Regions from separate parts of the Homo sapiens genome. Here region 1 is linked to region 2. Evidence: fine-mapped expression QTL. Tissue or cell type: monocytes after interferon gamma. Region 2 holds a variant in brackets; the other region holds the start of a gene. All regions are shown on one strand. Distances are from middle to middle.

Region 1 (8,107 bases), 41 kb before region 2:
CATTTTACTAGCATGAATTTAAAGCATTTGTAGCTGAGCACAGTGGCTCATGCCTATAATCCCAGCACTTTGGGAGGGTGAAGTGTGCGGATCACTTGAGGTGGGCGGATCACTTGAGGTCAGGAGATCGAGACCAGTCTGGCCAACATGGTGAAACTCCGTCTCTACTAAAAATACAAAAATTAGCTGCGCATTGTGGTGGGCACCTGTAATCCCAGCTACTCAGGAGGCTGAGGCAGGAGAATCACTCGTACCCAGGAGGTGGAGGTTGCAGTGAGCCGAGATCACATCACTGTACTCCAGCCTGGGTGACAGAGCAAGACTCCGTCTTAAAAAAATAAATAAATAAAATAAAATAAAGCACTTTTATGTAGGCCAATATAAGTTATTTGCTGGTATTTCAAGTTTGTATTTTTGGAAATTATACTTTTTAAGTTGCTAGCACTGACCTCTTAAGTTAGGAACACTTTGTGACATGGCCTCTCTTAACTACTCTTACATCACAGTATTTGTTTTCCTTCTACCTTTCTCACTGCCACTCCTGGGAGGCCCTTGCTAAAGGTTATCCTCCTCCATCTGATTTCTAAGCCTTCGAATTCCCTGGGGCCAGCTTCTAGGCCCTTTATCTTTTTTTTTCTATACCTAGTCCAACCTCTACTCTCCAAACACACCTCTTCAAGTACCTGCCTTTTGTTTTTTGTTTTTTTGGAGATGGGGCTCTCACTCTGTTACTCAGGCTGGAGTGCAGTGGCATGACCATAGCTCACTGCAGCCTCAACCTCCAGGGCTCAAACGATCCTCCTACCTCAGCCTCCTTAGTAGCTGGGATCACAGGTGTGCATCATCAACCTTACTAATTCTGTTTATTTTTTGTAGAGACAAGGCCTCACTCACTATATTGCCCAGGCTGCTGACTTGTTTTGTATCTCCACTGGAGTGTCTCAGAGCCATCTCAAACTCAACAACTCCCAAACGGAAGTATGCATTTCCACCATCATCAGACTCCCCAAACCTGTTCCTCTTTCAGTCTTCCTTGTCTTATGAAGGGCACCACTGTCAACTAGTCATCAAAGCATCACCTGAAGTATCTTCCTCCCTCTCAATCAATCCATCAGCAAGTTAAGTCATCACTTCCAATTTCAAAATACATCTGGACTCTTCCTGTCTCTCCATCTCCACTGCCACCACCCTCCATCACATGATTTCTTGACTGCAGTACTGCAGTAGCTTCCTTGCTAGACTTGCCTGCGGTCTTGCCACTCTCCAAACCACTCCTCCCAGGGCAGCCAGAGTAACCTTTTAAAAATGGAAATCAAATTATGTCACTTCTTTCATGTAAAAATCTCAAGAGACAGGGCTCACTCTGTCACCCAGGCTGGAGTGCACGGCACGATCATAGCTTACTACCGCCTTGACCTCCTGGGCTCAAGCAATCCTCCCACTTCAGCCTCCCATTCCCAGGGTAACTAGGACTACAGGCACACAGCACCACCTACTCTATTTAATCTCTACATATGTCCTGTGTCCTAACTCCATGTTAACCCCTCCAAGGCTTATGAAGCCCAACATGACCTGGCTCCAAATCTCATCTCCTGCCGCTCTCATCCACACTATCCACCCTACTCCAGTATATGGTAAGCTATTTCCACCACATTAAACCTTTGTGTAAGTTGTTCCCTCACTCAGCCTAAACCTGTCTCTCCCCTCTCTTCCCCCAAAAATGTTGGTTTCTTTTCTGGTCTCAGCTTTGTGAGACCTTCCTTGGTCCCACTAAGTGAGTCTCCCTGTTGGGGACTGGTCCCACTCTGCTCACAGCCATCAAGACTTGACCTCTGGAATTATCTTTGATCCATTCTTCTTACACTTTACGCAGGGAATGTTCAACCAGTCCAGTTGACTGCTCATTCAAATCTGTTTCTCCTCTCTGTCCCTTCCTATTGCACAGTCCAGAAAGACATCATGGGTGGCTTTGGAGGATGGACACGACTGGAAAGGACACAGATGGGCCCTCTGTGGGCTTCTATAAGAGCAAAGATTAGCCTCCTGATATTCCGTGGGAAATGAGGAGACACACTACACAGCCCGTATTTAGTTTTCTTTACTATGTGATGTGTGTTCACTTACTTTCAATACTAGTCACTTCAGGAATATGGTTCTTAACTTGTTGAGGGGTTTATCAATTCCCTGGAATACATAATAAAAGCTATAGATTATTTCTTAGAAAAATATACAAAAGCAAAATTTTGCAAATCATGGGAGAAGGGAATTTCCAGGCGACCGCTTCTGCTTTACCAGCCAATCATCTACTGTCTTGGATACTTGCAGCGTTATCTAGTCTTTTCATTCATTCAGCAAACACTTCCTGGAGACCTATAATGAGACCAAGCACAGTCTGAGATGCTGGGTTTGCATACAGTGAAGAACAAGATAGACATATGTCTCTGTCTTCAAGGAGCTTACATTATCCAGCATAAGAGACATTAAACGAGGTTGGGTGTGGTGGCTCACGCCTGTAATCCAGCCCTTTGAGAGGCCGAGGTGGGCATATCACCTGAGGTAAGGAGTTCGAGATCAGCCGGGCAAACATGGCGAAACCCCATCTCTACTAAAAATACAGAAATTAGCTGGGCGTGGTGGTGGCCACCTGTAATCCCAGCTAATTAGGAAGCTGAGGCAGGAGAATCGCTTGAAGCTGAGAGGCGGAGGTTGCAGTGAGCTGAGATCATGCCACTGCACTCCGGCCTGGGCGATAGAGCAAGACTCCGTCTCAAAAAAAAAAAAAAAAAGAAAGAGACATTCAACGAGCAAACAAATAATCAATATAAAGTCAGGTAATGGTAAATATTCTGAAGGAAAATAAAGCGGGGCATGGAATAAGGGTGGGTGAGGCTATTTTAATGGTGTGGTCCTTTCTAAGATGATATTTGAGAAAGACCTGTAAGGTCATGAGAAGAGGTCAGAGAAGCACATTGCTGGCAATGGGAACAGAGAGTGCAAAGGCCCAGAGGTCTTTCCTTCCTCCTAAGATGGAAAGCGAGGTCCAAGATTCTGCATATTTACTTCCTCCCATAATAGGTAGCCAGCACAGTTCTGAGGGCACAGTGCCAGGTTTTCAGAGTGGAGGTTCTCTTCAGGTTCTGATTTCAAACGTCCAAATCCTAGCCTCCACATTTCAGGGCTTCTCTGGAATGTCTCTTCCCCTGGGAAACTTTAACTCATCTACTAAAGAGCAATCTACGATTTCTCTGAATATTAACATAATTTTTTTAAAAAGTACTTATAGGTTTGCATGGTGGCTCATGCCTGTAATTCCAGCACTTTGGGACGCCGAGGCAGGAGGATTGCTTGAGACAAGCCTGGGCAACATACCGAGACCTCGTCTCTACAAAAATATTAAAAAATTAGCTGGGTGTGGTGGTGTGCGCCTGTAGTACCAGCTACTCAGGAGGCTGAGGTGGGAGGCTCTCTTGGGCCCAGGAGGTAGAGGCTGCAGTGAGCCGTGAGGGAGCCATTGCACTCCAGTCTGGGTGACAGAATGAGACTGCCTCACAAAAAAAAAAAAAAAAAAAAGCTTGTTACTTTCTAAGGGTATGTGTTTGGGGCAGTGATTTTGTTTTTCTGGGCACCTTAGTAACACTGCGGCCACGCTTCCCCAACTAAAGGTAAAAGTCCATAGCAACAATCCTCCCTTTCTCTCTGCACCCGGGCCGCTTTCCCGCGGAGACTACATTTCCCAGAATGCCCCGCGGGCTGGGACGGCGCGCGCAGCGCTGTTTCGTGGGACCAGGATTGAAACAAGATGGCGGGTTCGTGGTGAGAAGCCGTCAAGGTAACCGCTTCCCTCTACTCCTCCTGTCGAGGACTTCCTCGAAACTGGGCAGTCCCACAGTGTTGGTCGGCAGTTGTAGAGGTCTCCCGCCTGTCGTTCCCGGCAGGGCGAGGTTGCCTGCATCCCCAGCCTTTGTCCTTCCTGCAGAAGAGCCGGCATGTGGCTGCGCGTTTCTTATAGCGCCCCCTTTGTTCCCTGGCGGACGCCCGTGGGGAGGTGATGCAGCTTGTGGCTCTAGGGACTCCTTTAGGTCGAAGAGTTCTGGTGCTCTTGGTAGCCTGTTCCTCAAACCTCTGACCCTCAGAGGCTCTGTAGCTTTTGTTTTGGGGTTGAATTCCGGGCTGAGGGACTTGATCTCTGAAATGATCTTCCTGGGGTGAATAATCTGACTCCCAGCAGGGCGTGCTTTTCTCTGGGCTTCGGACAGAGGGGACCTAATTTCCCCCAAGATGTTTTATTCGTGGTCAGAAGTCATGGGTTTACGTCCCACGCATGTATTAAGCAGCGATATACTGAGCAAGTAATCGATTGACCTCTCTGAGCCTTTGTTCTTAATCTGAAATGGAGATGCTGCTTCACACACTTGTGAAAGTCAGAGCACATATTGTATATGAAAGTGGGTTGTAAACTAAAAAGCACACCTATGAGCTCAGGGTTAACGGTGTTAATGTACTGGCAGTGCAAGGTATCAGTGTGAGTGGTTTAGACTAGCAAATAAGAGGGCCTGTGTCCTAATTCTCTTTTATCACTATTGGGGGGAAGGGCACGGATACTCATTGAAGACTATTAAAAACAAGATTTAACAATGGTTATTTGTCATTTATTCACAACAGGCCATGAAGATTGTGGTTTTCCCCATTTTGTCATTGGAGAAACTGAGGATCGTTTAGTTAATGACTTGTTTAAAGTTTCCCAATTTGGCAGTGACTGACTCTAAAGTCCTTGGAAGCAAGACGTTTAAATTTTGTACTTTAGTTTCTTCATGAATCAGAATAAAGATACCTCACATGATTAATACGAGAGCAAAATGAAATGGTGGTGAAAGTACGTTGGAAAGTTAAAGACTTTGTACACATATAAGATGGTGAAATTTTATCTGGGACTTGAGGGCATTTATGAGTTCCTCCAATTGAGTAATAGGCTAAGGATAGGCCTTGTTTGATATTTCTTTATTATTATTATTATTATTAATGGCTCAGGGCAGACAACTATTTCATTTAATCAGAAACAGGATAGTACTGTAAATGATGTAGTATCTTGTGTATGGAACCTTGGAGGGTGTACACAGCCACACTAGCATTAAAAGAATGAATACTCTGTGTACCATTTGTGAGTGACTGTTTCAAGAGTAATTACACATTTACTGAGTATTCATTAAGTGGAAGGAGCTGCACTGGGTCCTGCAGAGAAGTTTGTATCTAAGATAAATAGTAATGGACATAGTTCCAGTGGTTCTGATCTTATATTCTGTCCATGTCGCTCTTCGTCCTGTTGTTCAATCATGTGGAATTGCCAAGTTGTTTAAAAGCATTGCTTCAGTTGACTTCTAGGCAGTGATTCTTACCTTGTTCTTGTGGTGTTTAATATAACTTAAATTTACCATAGGTAGCACTGATTTTTCTTTATCTCTTCAGCAGGAGTAGAAATTGGTATGCTTAGAAGCAGATTCTAAAAGCAGTTTCTCTTCAGAACATCTTTTTTCATACCACTTGATAAGCATCTTGAAACACCATGGCTGTAGCTGCAGTAAAATGGGTGATGTCAAAGAGAACTATCTTGAAACATTTATTTCCAGTCCAAAGTAAGTGAAATTTTTTTTAATGTTTAAAAACTTTTAAACTTTTAAGAATTAAGAAAATTTAAAGCATTTAGTTATTGTATATGCCTGTAATTTGCAGGAGTGTTTGCAGCAATGGAAAGTGGGAGAAAACCTAAATGTCAGTCAGAAGGGGAATGGATAGGTCAGATGTGGTGTCTCATGCCTGTAATCCCAGCACTTTGGGAGGCTGAGGTGGGAGGATTGCTTGAGGCCAGGGGTTTGAGACCAGCCTGGGCAACATAGCAAGACCCCCACCTCTAAAAAAAAATGTGGGTTGGGGAGGGGAATGGATAAATTATGGTACATCTGAACTGTGACTGTCATGTAGCTGTTACTGACATGGAAAGATCTCCAAATAGAAACAAAAAAAGCATGTCAGAACCACATCTATATATATCTATCATATGATCTTATTTGTATGTTTAAAAGATGATCCATCATATGCATGTGTGCATATGCATAAATGCAGAGGTAAAAGGTCTGGACCAAACAGTGGTTATCTGTGTAGCCCACTCTTGGGATTTGGCTGAGGGCAGGAGTAAGGGACTGGTCAAGGGTAACTTTCTCTTGTTCGATTACATGTATTACTTTTTTAGTATTTCTCTCTTTTTTTTTTTTTTAACGGAGTCTGGCTCTGTCGCCCAGGCTGGAGTGCAGTGGCGTGATTACTTTTTTAGTATTTCTTAAAATGTGCGAATAAAGGGTAAATTCACAGTCCCATCTTCCAAAGATAATCATTGTTAATATTTTGGTGGATTGTCATTGTGTTTTTTCTATGTACCTAGCCATTTTTAAAAAAATGAAATGTAATTTCTGCCTTTCTTTTCTAAAGAACTGTATATAGTTAGTATTTTCTCGAAAGCTTGTTAATACATGTTTGACAGTCAAAGCATGGACCCAAATAAGTAAATAGAGTATTAAAGTCTTTTTTCTCAGCCAACTGTGCTTTCTTTTTCCTTTTCCTGTCTGTAAACAGAGTTTATAGCTCTTATAAACAGCTCTTATAGGAAGCTTTCCATTTCTAAAGTAGACATGTATAGAAGGCAACAGTAGGTTTGCCTTTTTATATTAAACTATGTGAGCCAACTTTTTATTTTTATTTTTTATTTTAGATTCGGGCGTACATGTGCAGGTTTGTTACGTGGATGTATTACATATACTGAGGTTTGGGCTTCAACTGAACCCGTCACCCAAATAGTGAACATAGTACCCAATAGGTAGTTTTTCAACTCTTCCCTCCATCCCTCCATTCTGTTTTGAGTCCCCAGTGTTTATTGTTCCCATCTTTGTGTCCATATGTACCCAATGTTTACCTCCTACTTGTAAGTTAGAACATGTAGTATTTGGCTGTTTTTGCATTAATTCACTTAGGATAATGGCCTCCAGCTGCATCTGTGTTGCTGTAAAGGACATGATTTTATTTGTTTTAATGTCTGTGTAATAATCCATGGTATGCATATACACCACATATTCTTCCAGTCCACCATTGATGGGCTTGTTTCCATGTCTTCGCTATTGTGAATAGTGCTCTGATAAACATGCAAGTGCAGCTGACTTTTTAAATACAACTCTGCTTGACCTTGACCTTTGTCTCTTCTTTCTTATTTCCTATTTACCACCATTTGTAATTGAAAGTTTGCTTATTGAATTAGGGAGAAAAGAGCTATTTGAAGAATGGAGTATAAGTAAAGTAATAAATAGGCAATTTGTTATGCTTGAGACGAGGAAAATATTTTACTCAGTAAACACCTTTGTTGAATAGAATGCTCAAAAGTTTGCCAGATCCTACTCTATTTTATTTTATTTTATTTTTTGAGACTGGATCTTGCTCCCAGGCTGGAGTGCAGAGGCATGATCTTGGCACACTGCAACTTCTGCCTCCCAGGTTCAAGTGATTCTCCTGCCTCAGCCTCCCGAGTAGCTGGGATTATAGGCACCTACCACCAGGCCTGGTTAATATTTGTATTTTTAGTAGAGGTAAAGTTTCACCATGTTGGCCAGGCTGGTCTCGAACTCCCAACCTTAAATGATCCTCCTGCCTTGGCCTCCCGAAGTGCTGAGATTACAGGTGTGAGCCATTGCGCCTGGCCTAATTTTTGTATTTTTAGCAGGGGAGGGGTTTCACCATGTTGGCCAAAACTGGTCTCAAACTCCTGACCTCAAGTGATCTGCCCACCTCAGCCTCCGAGAGTGCTGGGATTATAGGCATGAGCCACCGCACCTGGCCACCAAATCCTGCTCTTATAGGAAGCTTTCCATCCCTGCTTCCTTGCTTGCCCCACTCTCCCATTTTTTAGGGCCCTAAACATAGAAACATTTATTACATTATATTCAAAGTAAAATCAACTTAGAATTCAGTAAATAGAACAGGACATTGCTTAAGAGACTTTGGATATAAACCAAAATAAGTCACAACAAAACTGCAATCAGCTTTTGATTATCTAGGAGCATTTTTGTTG
Region 2 (8,107 bases):
AATTCTACTTGCCTGTAGCTAAACACCTAATAACATTAGAACTGAAATGATAGTGATATGCAAGATAGCACGTGTGGTTTCCACATATTCTAAGAGGCATCTTCAATTAGATTCCAAAAATTTTTAAGAAAAAAAGATATAATGTGCCATCATTTTGGATGGTTCTGGGCACTTCAGGTAAACCCTTACTCAAAGAATACTTTTTCAGTTTCAATGTGTATTTTTAAAATTTCCAGAAGATGAGTTGAATATCAGCCCACAAACACTGGTAGTAAGCAAACTATTTTATTTGCTAAAGGCATAAATAAATGTCTCCTTTGCTTTTAGGCAAAGGGAATGCTTCTTCAGATTTTTTTTTTTCCCCAGAAGTTCAAAATAACTTGCTCATAGTCTTCCCAAAATAATTTTCAAACATTCTAACACCAAAGAAAGATACTCCCAATTGAGCTCAGCCATCAGCCTCCTACTATTTTTTAATGTGCTGTTTAACCTTGTGAATGTGAGAATATTTTGAATGCACTGGGAAGGAATACTCAGGAACAATATGTAATGTGCTTTCTAGTTTTGCACAAAGGCATTCATTTTGATTTAGTAACAACCTCATACTTACATAGCATATCCTTCTGCAGAAATGCTTCACAGCCATGACTGCTTGAATTCTTGTCATGTTGCTTGTAAATGAGCTCCTGTTTTTAGATGGAGAAATGGAGGCAGAGTCTCACAATTACATGTGAGAATAGCAAGTAGAACCTTATGATTACTTCTGAGTCTTTTTTTTTTTTTTTTTTTTGAGATGGAGTTTCACTTTTGTCACCCAGGCTGGAGTGCAGTACAGTGGCCAGTGGCATGATCTCAGCCCACTGCAACCTCCGCCTCATAGGCTCAAGCAATTCTCCTGCCTCAGCCTCCCGAGTAGCTGGGATTATGAGCGTGCACCAGCATGCCTGGCTGATTTTTTGTATTTTCAGTAGAGATGGGGTTTCACCACGTTGGCCAGGCTGGTCTTGAACTCCTGACCTCAGGTGATCTGCCCACCTTGGCCCCCCAAAATACTGGGATTACAAGGGTGAGCCACTGTGCCCAGCCTCTTCTGAGTCTTCAATTCAGCAAGAATGTCTCTTTTTTTTTTTTTTTTTTTTTTGGGACAGAGTCTTGCTCTTGTTGCCTTGGCTGGAGTGTAGTGGCACATTCTCAGCTCACTGCAACCTCCACCTCCCGGGTTCAAGCGATTCTCCTGCCTCAGCTTCCCAAGTAGCTGGGACTATAGGCATGCAACACCATGTCCGGCTAATTTTTTGTATTTAGTAGAGATGGGGTTTCTCCATGTTGGTCAGGCTGGTCTCAAACTCCTGACCTCAGGTGATCCACCTGCTTTCGCCTCCTGAAGTGCTGGGATTACAGGCATGAGCCACCACGCCCGGCCAAGAATGTCTTTTCTTTATAATGTTGTCTCTAAGCATGTAATCTTTTCGGCAAATTTTATTAAGCACCTATAGAGTTCAAGCCACTGTGGGTTCAAAGATAGCCCTCATTCCTGATTGACAAAGTATCTTGCTATGACCATCCCTTCTTTCCCCTCTAGTCAAAATTAGTCTCTTCTTCACTCATAATGCAAAGTACATTGGATTACTATTATGCCACTTACTTGAATAATTGTCTTGATGAGTAATATATGTAGTCAGTAACATGGTTAAGTGTGGCAATTTGGATTGATCCCATTGGACTTTTCAATTGCTGCATCCAGGTGTAATTACCATAAGAGCATAGAAGATAGAATCGTAAAGCTGAAAGACATCTTAAAGATGATTTTTGGGGACTGATTTGGAAACAGATCCAAAGACACTAATTGACTTGCCCAAGATCACAGATTGTGGCAGAACCAACCAATGTCTTTTTTAAACATTAAGGACATCTTATATGTATATTTATGCATATACATACTGATGAAATGTGCCTTTAGCAATAGATGTGTCCAGTGATGTACTAATGAAGATTTAACAACTGGTTCTAACTTGTAATGTTTGCCAGTTTCCATGACTGGGTCTTACAAGTTGTTGTGCACTGACTCCATCATTCCACTGGATGTGCCCCTGAAATCATATATTTACTACTAAAACCATTAGATTGTTTCCTTGTTCCAGTTATGCATTCAGAGACACTCCACCTTATTTTCTGATTACATTTGCAGGGAGAAATAACTCCTTACTTGTCAGTTTCAGCCTTCACTTTTAGTTTCTTTTTCTTTTCCTTTTTCCAACCCAGTATACCTTAGAAACTTTCAGTTTCTTTTAAGGATTTAATAACTTGCTTATAAGTGTTTAAAATGACTTAATGGGTTCTATCTTTTAAGGGAACTTTGGATGAATCCTTGAATATCAGTTATCTATTGCCAATTAACAAATCACCCCAAAGCTCATTGGCTTAAAACAACAATCTTTCATTAGTTTGCGTTCTTCCAGGTAATTCTTATAGTCTGGATCCAGCTCAGCTTATCTTGGCTGGACTTGCCCATGCAGCTGAGGTCACTAGTTGGGTTGTTGAGGCTGGCTAGTCCTAGATGGTGTCACTCATATGTCTGGTATTGAGTGACTGTCACCTGGGGCATTAGGGGGACTGTGTCTCTCATCATCCAGCAAGCTAGGCCTGGATTCTTCACATGGCTTTAGGATTTCAAGAGTATGAGATTGGGGCTGGGCATGATGACTCACACCTGTAATCCCAGCACTTTGGGAGGCCAAGGTTGGGGGATTTCTTGAGCCCAGGAGTTCAAGACCAGCCTGGGCAACATAGTGAGAGCCCATCTGTAAAAAAAAAAATTTTTTGAGATGGAGTTTCGCCCTTGTTGCCCAGGCTGGAGTGCAATGGCGCAATCTCAGCCCACCAGAACCTTTGCCTCTTGGGTTCAAGCGATTCTCCTGCCTCAGTCTCCTGAGTAGCTGAGATTACAGGCATGAGCCACCACGCCCAGCTAATTTTGTATTTTTAGTAGAGATGGGTTTCTCCGTGTTGGTCAGGCTGGTCTTGAATTCCCCACCTCAGGTGATCTGCCTGCCTCAGCCTCCCAAAGTGCTGGGATTACAGGTGTGAGCCACCACGCCTGGTCTTCTACAAAAAAATTTTAAAAAATTAGCTGGGGGTGGGGAGGGTGGGGTGGTGCTGCATGCCTGTAGTCCCAGCTATTTGGGAGGCTGAGATGGGAGGATTGCTTGAGCCCATGAGATTGAGGCTGTAGTGAGCCATGATTGTGCCACTGCACTCTAGGCTGGGCAACAGAACAAGCACCTGTATCAAAACAAACAAAAAAGTGCAAGATTGGAAGCTTCGAGGCTTCTTGAGGCCTAGTCTCAGAACTGGCACAATATCACTTCATAAGGCTATCTCAGATTCAAGGGAGTAAGAGGAGAGATGCTACCTATTAAAAGGAGAAGCAGCAAATACTATGGCCATTCTCTTCACAATAGTTGTCACCAAAACGTAATCGATTTGTTTATGGGTTTACATTGTCATGTCTCCACAGGACAATGCACATGGTATGTTTGTCAGAACCCAGTTGGAGTTTTGTTTCCCAGCATCCAAAGGAAATCCCTAACTTTCATTTTTTCTTCCCGTAAGCAGCCCCGAACACTTACTTATAAGCCATCTCTACCTGAATTAGCAATCATGGATAAGCTCAATAACTGATCATTTCCTTATCAGTTTAAACCATATATATTTTAACACTGTCTCTTTTTCACACACACTAGTTAGCTAAGAATGAGCTGGGGGGCTGGGCGTGGTAGTTCACACCTGTAATCCCAGCACTTTAGGAGGCGGAGGTGGGCGGATCACTTGAGGTCAGGAGTTTGAGACCAGCCTAGCTAACATGGTGAAACCCCGTCTCTACTAAAAATGCAAAAATTAGCTGGGTGTGGTGGCAGGCATCTGTAATCCTAGCTACTCAGGAGGCTGAGGCAGGAGAATCCCTTGAACCCAGGAGGCAGAGGTTGCAGTGGGCCAAGATCACACCACTGCACTCCAGTCTGGGTGATAAAACGAGATTCCGTCTCAAAAAAAAAAAAAAAACTGCCAAAACGCTTTTTGCAAAGTGGTTGTACCATTTTATATTCTCACCACCATGAATGAAAGTTCCAATTGCTATATTCTTGCCCTCATTTGATAATATTTTTAGTTTTAGCCATTCTAATGGATATATAGTAATAATTTGATGGTTTTAATTTGCATTTCTCTGATGATCAATAACATTAAGTTTTGATTCAGGTACTTGTTGGGCACTCATATCTTTGGTGAAATATCTGTTCAAATCATTTGCTCTTTTTTTTTTCTTAGCACTTAAAAAAGACTTTTTGCCAGGCACAGTGGCACATGCCTGTAGACCTAGCTACTCAGGAGGCTAAGACAGGAGGATCACTTGAGTCCAGAAGTTCTGGGTTGTAGTGAGCTATGTCAATCAGGTGTTTGCACTAAGTTCAGCATAAATGTAGTGACCTCCTGGGTCACTGGGACCCAGAGTTGCCTAAGGAGCGTCAGAAGTGGAGCAGGTCAAAACTCCTGTGCTGATCAGTAGTGGGATCACACCTGTGAATAGCCACTGCACTGCAGCCTGGGCAACATAGTGAGATCCTCATCTCCT[GA/G]AAAAAAAAAAAAACTTTAGTTTTTAAAAGTAGTTTTAGGTTCTGAGCAAAATTGAGAGGAGGGTACAGAAATAACTTATATATCCTCAGTGCTCCCCTCCCCCATGCCTCCCTCATCACCATCCCCCAGCAGAGTGGCACATTGGTTACAATTGATAAACCTACACTGACACATCATTATCACCCAAAGCCTATTGTTTCCATTAGGGTTCACTCTTGGTGCTGTACAATCTATGGGTTTGAACAAAGGTACAATGACATGTATCCATCTTTATAGTCATGCAGAGTCTACACTGTCCTAAAAACCCTTGGCTCTGCCTCTTCGTCGTGTCCTCCCCACTGACCCCCGGCTACCACTGGTCTTTTCACTGTCTCCGTAAGTTTTTCCTTTTTCAGAACGCCATATAGTTGGAATCATAAAGTATATATAGCCTTTTCACATTGGTTTCTTTCACTGGATAATATGCATTTGTTTCCTCTATGTCTTTTCACAGTTTGATAGCTCATTTCTTTTTAGCATCGAGTAATACTCCATTGTCTGGGTGTACAACAGTTTATCCATTCACCTGCTGAAGGACATCTTGGTTGATTGCTTCCAAGTTTTGGCAATTATGAATAAAATTGCTATAGATATCCATGTGTAGGTTTTTGTGTCCATTTAAGCTTTCAACTCCTTTGGGTAAATACCAAAGAGCACAATTGTTGGATTGAATGCTAAGAGAATGTTTCGTTTTGTAAAAAACCACCAAACTGTCCTACAGAGAGGCTGTACCATTTTGCATTCCCACCAGCAGTGAATAAGGGTTCCTATTGCTCAACATCCCTGTCAGCACTTGGTGTTAGTGTTCTGAATTTTGGCCATTCTAAAAGGTGTGTAGTGGTGTCTCACTTGTTTTGTGTTTTTCTCTGCTCAGACAGCTCATCCACATCACATTTATTTTAATTTGCATTTCCCTGATAATATGTGATATGGAACATCTATTTACTCATTATTTTTTCTTCTTATGATTGAAGTTATAATATTTCTTTAAATATTTTGGATAAATCTTTTGTCAGATATATGCACTGGAAATATTTTTATGGGGGACCAGTGTTAAGATTAGATCTGTTTAAAGAGAAAGGAGAGAAAGTTTCAGGCAGGGAATGCAATCGATGTGAAGGTTTGGGGTAATTTGTTTCATTTATCTTTAACACCATGTTATGGATGGCAAAATAACTTCACTGGCTTTTTTTATCAAGAAAAGACTTACCTTTTCTGAATGCAACAGTATTAGTAAACCTAATGGTGACAATAAAAGCGATTCTGAATAAATGAAAACCAATAGATTGTTCTAGTTTTACTCATAAATATAATTCTTCATATACTGAGTTCAGTTTTTTAGCCATAAATGAAGACATGGGAAAACCATAACATGTTATTTGCTGAGAAGTTCTGGCAAATGAAGCAATAAAATAATCAAAACTAAATCAACATTTAAATACAGAACATAAAGAGATAAATCCAAAACCAGAAGATCTCTTTGAAAGAAAAACCTAAGTAATTAAAAAACTGAAAGCACAGATATTCATTATTTCACAAATAAACGTTAATGCTTTTTAGACATCTTTAAGCAACTTTAGATTGCTAAAACTAAAAAATGCAATTAAGACAATAATCTTATATATAGACAATAATTGTCTTAATAATAATCAGCATCAAAGATTCTTAGAAATGTTGGGAGACTGTGTGGCAAAGAAAGTACTTCAATTACCAGTTACCAACACACAACAATTTGAAATATCCAGGAAGATCAACCCATAGAACAAAGAAAGCTAATAAATTACCTTTTCTTGCAATTGGTTTGATGTACCATTAATATATAGATATTACTAATATGGCAATTAGTTTATATGCTATTTGAATATGATAGTAATATGAAGGAAGATTCTCTTTTTTCCACTTCATTGCCAACAAACAGCTAACTCTAAACAACAGTAAAGTGTGGAATAAATTACTTTGTTAATTAATGTGGTTTGAAGCTTTGTAGGAATCCAATTGGATGGATAGCAGCAGTGGTAAGAGAACATTCCGGAATAATTACCTAAATTAAGGAGCTTGCCCTAGAATGTAAATCAACCTACTATATCTTTTTATTTGAAAAAGTCTTGGTAGAAAAAGCATATCAACTGAACTGTACAGTGTGTTCAGTGACTTAGTAAAGAACATAACTTGTGTAAAGGCTAATGCAATAAGTTTGAGATTGTTCTCTTTATGTAATAGTTTGGAAAACAAACAACTGTGATTACATTTAGAGATATGATGATTATCTAGAGGGAAAGTTCTGTTGAGCATATTTGAACATTTAATTATTGCTGCAAGAAGCCAGTTTGGTCCCAGCTTTATAAAGATATACATTGGGCTGGGTGCGGTGGCTCATGCCTGTAATCCCAGCACTTTGGGAGGCCGAGGCAGGCGGATCACCTGAGGTCAGAGGTTCGAGACCAGCCTGGCCAACATGGTGAAACCCCATCTCTACTAAAAATACAAAAATTAGCTGGGCGTGGTGGCACACACCTGTATTCCTTGCTACTCGGGAGGCTAAGGCAGGAGAATCGCTTGAACCCAGGAAGCAGAGGTTGCAGTGAGCCAAGATTGTGCCACTGCACACCAGCCTGGATAAAAAGAGTGAAACTCTGCCTCAAAATAAAATAATAAAATGAAATAAAGATATAAATTGGCCAGCTAGAGTTACCTGAAGTTACTATCTTCAATTATCTGAAGACAGTTCTGATAGCTTCAGAATTCTTTCATACAAGGCAGGAATGCAACTTGTTTTTTAATGGCAGATAAAATCAAAGAGCAAAAGCAAAAGGTAGAAGCTTGAAAGACCAGAGTTGCTACAGATTGTTATTACATGTTCCATAATTTAACAATTGTCATTGAAGTTGGTGATTGTCTTGATATTGCACATCTGTAAGAAGTAATCAAACTATTGTGAATTTGATAGAATGCTTTAAGTTTTATTTTCCAACAAAAGAATGTCTACATACGGCAAATTCATAGATCTGGAATCCATTTATGTCATCAAAAGAGGATTTAAATTTAATTGTAAGCTTATATGATACATTGTTCTAACTGGCAACTAATGAAGGATTAAAAATGAATTTTGAAAATACCACACCACTTGCTTCATTTTGGATAAAAGTTAAAAGTGAATATTCTGAGTATGCTGAAATTAGTTTAAAAACTTTTTTTTCCCATTCCGACCATTATCCCTTTGTAAATCTGGTTTCATCTTATGAATAATATTTTTTAAAAACCATGGAAACAGTTTAGATATACATCAATCCATGAAAGTAGTAGTATTGTCAATCTACCCTGGATTACATATTTTAACGAGAAAGAAACCAGCTCATTTGTGACATTTAGAATTTTTTTTTTTTTTTTTTTTTTTTGAGAGAGAGGGTCTCATTCATTTTATTGCCCAGGCTGGAGT

Direction of the effects. Alleles are on the strand shown, and positions count from the first base shown. SD is a standard deviation of normalised expression in the study named.
In carriers of allele GA in region 2, the expression in monocytes after interferon gamma of the gene that starts at base 3,789 in region 1 tends to be lower than with G alone (large effect, 0.80 SD a copy in Fairfax 2014).

Evidence for each region. PIP is the estimated chance that this variant, and not a neighbour inherited with it, causes the effect.
Region 1: MRPL42 starts here. The variant in region 2 is fine-mapped to the expression of MRPL42 in monocytes after interferon gamma (Fairfax 2014, PIP 0.95).

The regions. Positions count from the first base shown.
Region 1 is chr12:93,463,726-93,471,832 of GRCh38, forward strand. MRPL42 (mitochondrial ribosomal protein L42) reads left to right here and starts at 3,789. Exons shown (of 6, transcript NM_014050.4): 1 at 3,789-3,829; 2 at 5,467-5,630. The coding sequence starts at 5,561. RefSeq lists enhancers at 3,621-3,680, 3,741-4,010.
Region 2 is chr12:93,505,142-93,513,248 of GRCh38, forward strand. It overlaps MRPL42 (mitochondrial ribosomal protein L42), which reads left to right. Exons shown (of 6, transcript NM_014050.4): 6 at 1-8,107. It also overlaps the pseudogene RN7SL737P. Among named protein-coding and RNA genes, the nearest start is that of MRPL42, 42 kb to the left of the region's middle. The variant GA/G (reference allele first, on the strand shown) is at 4,631.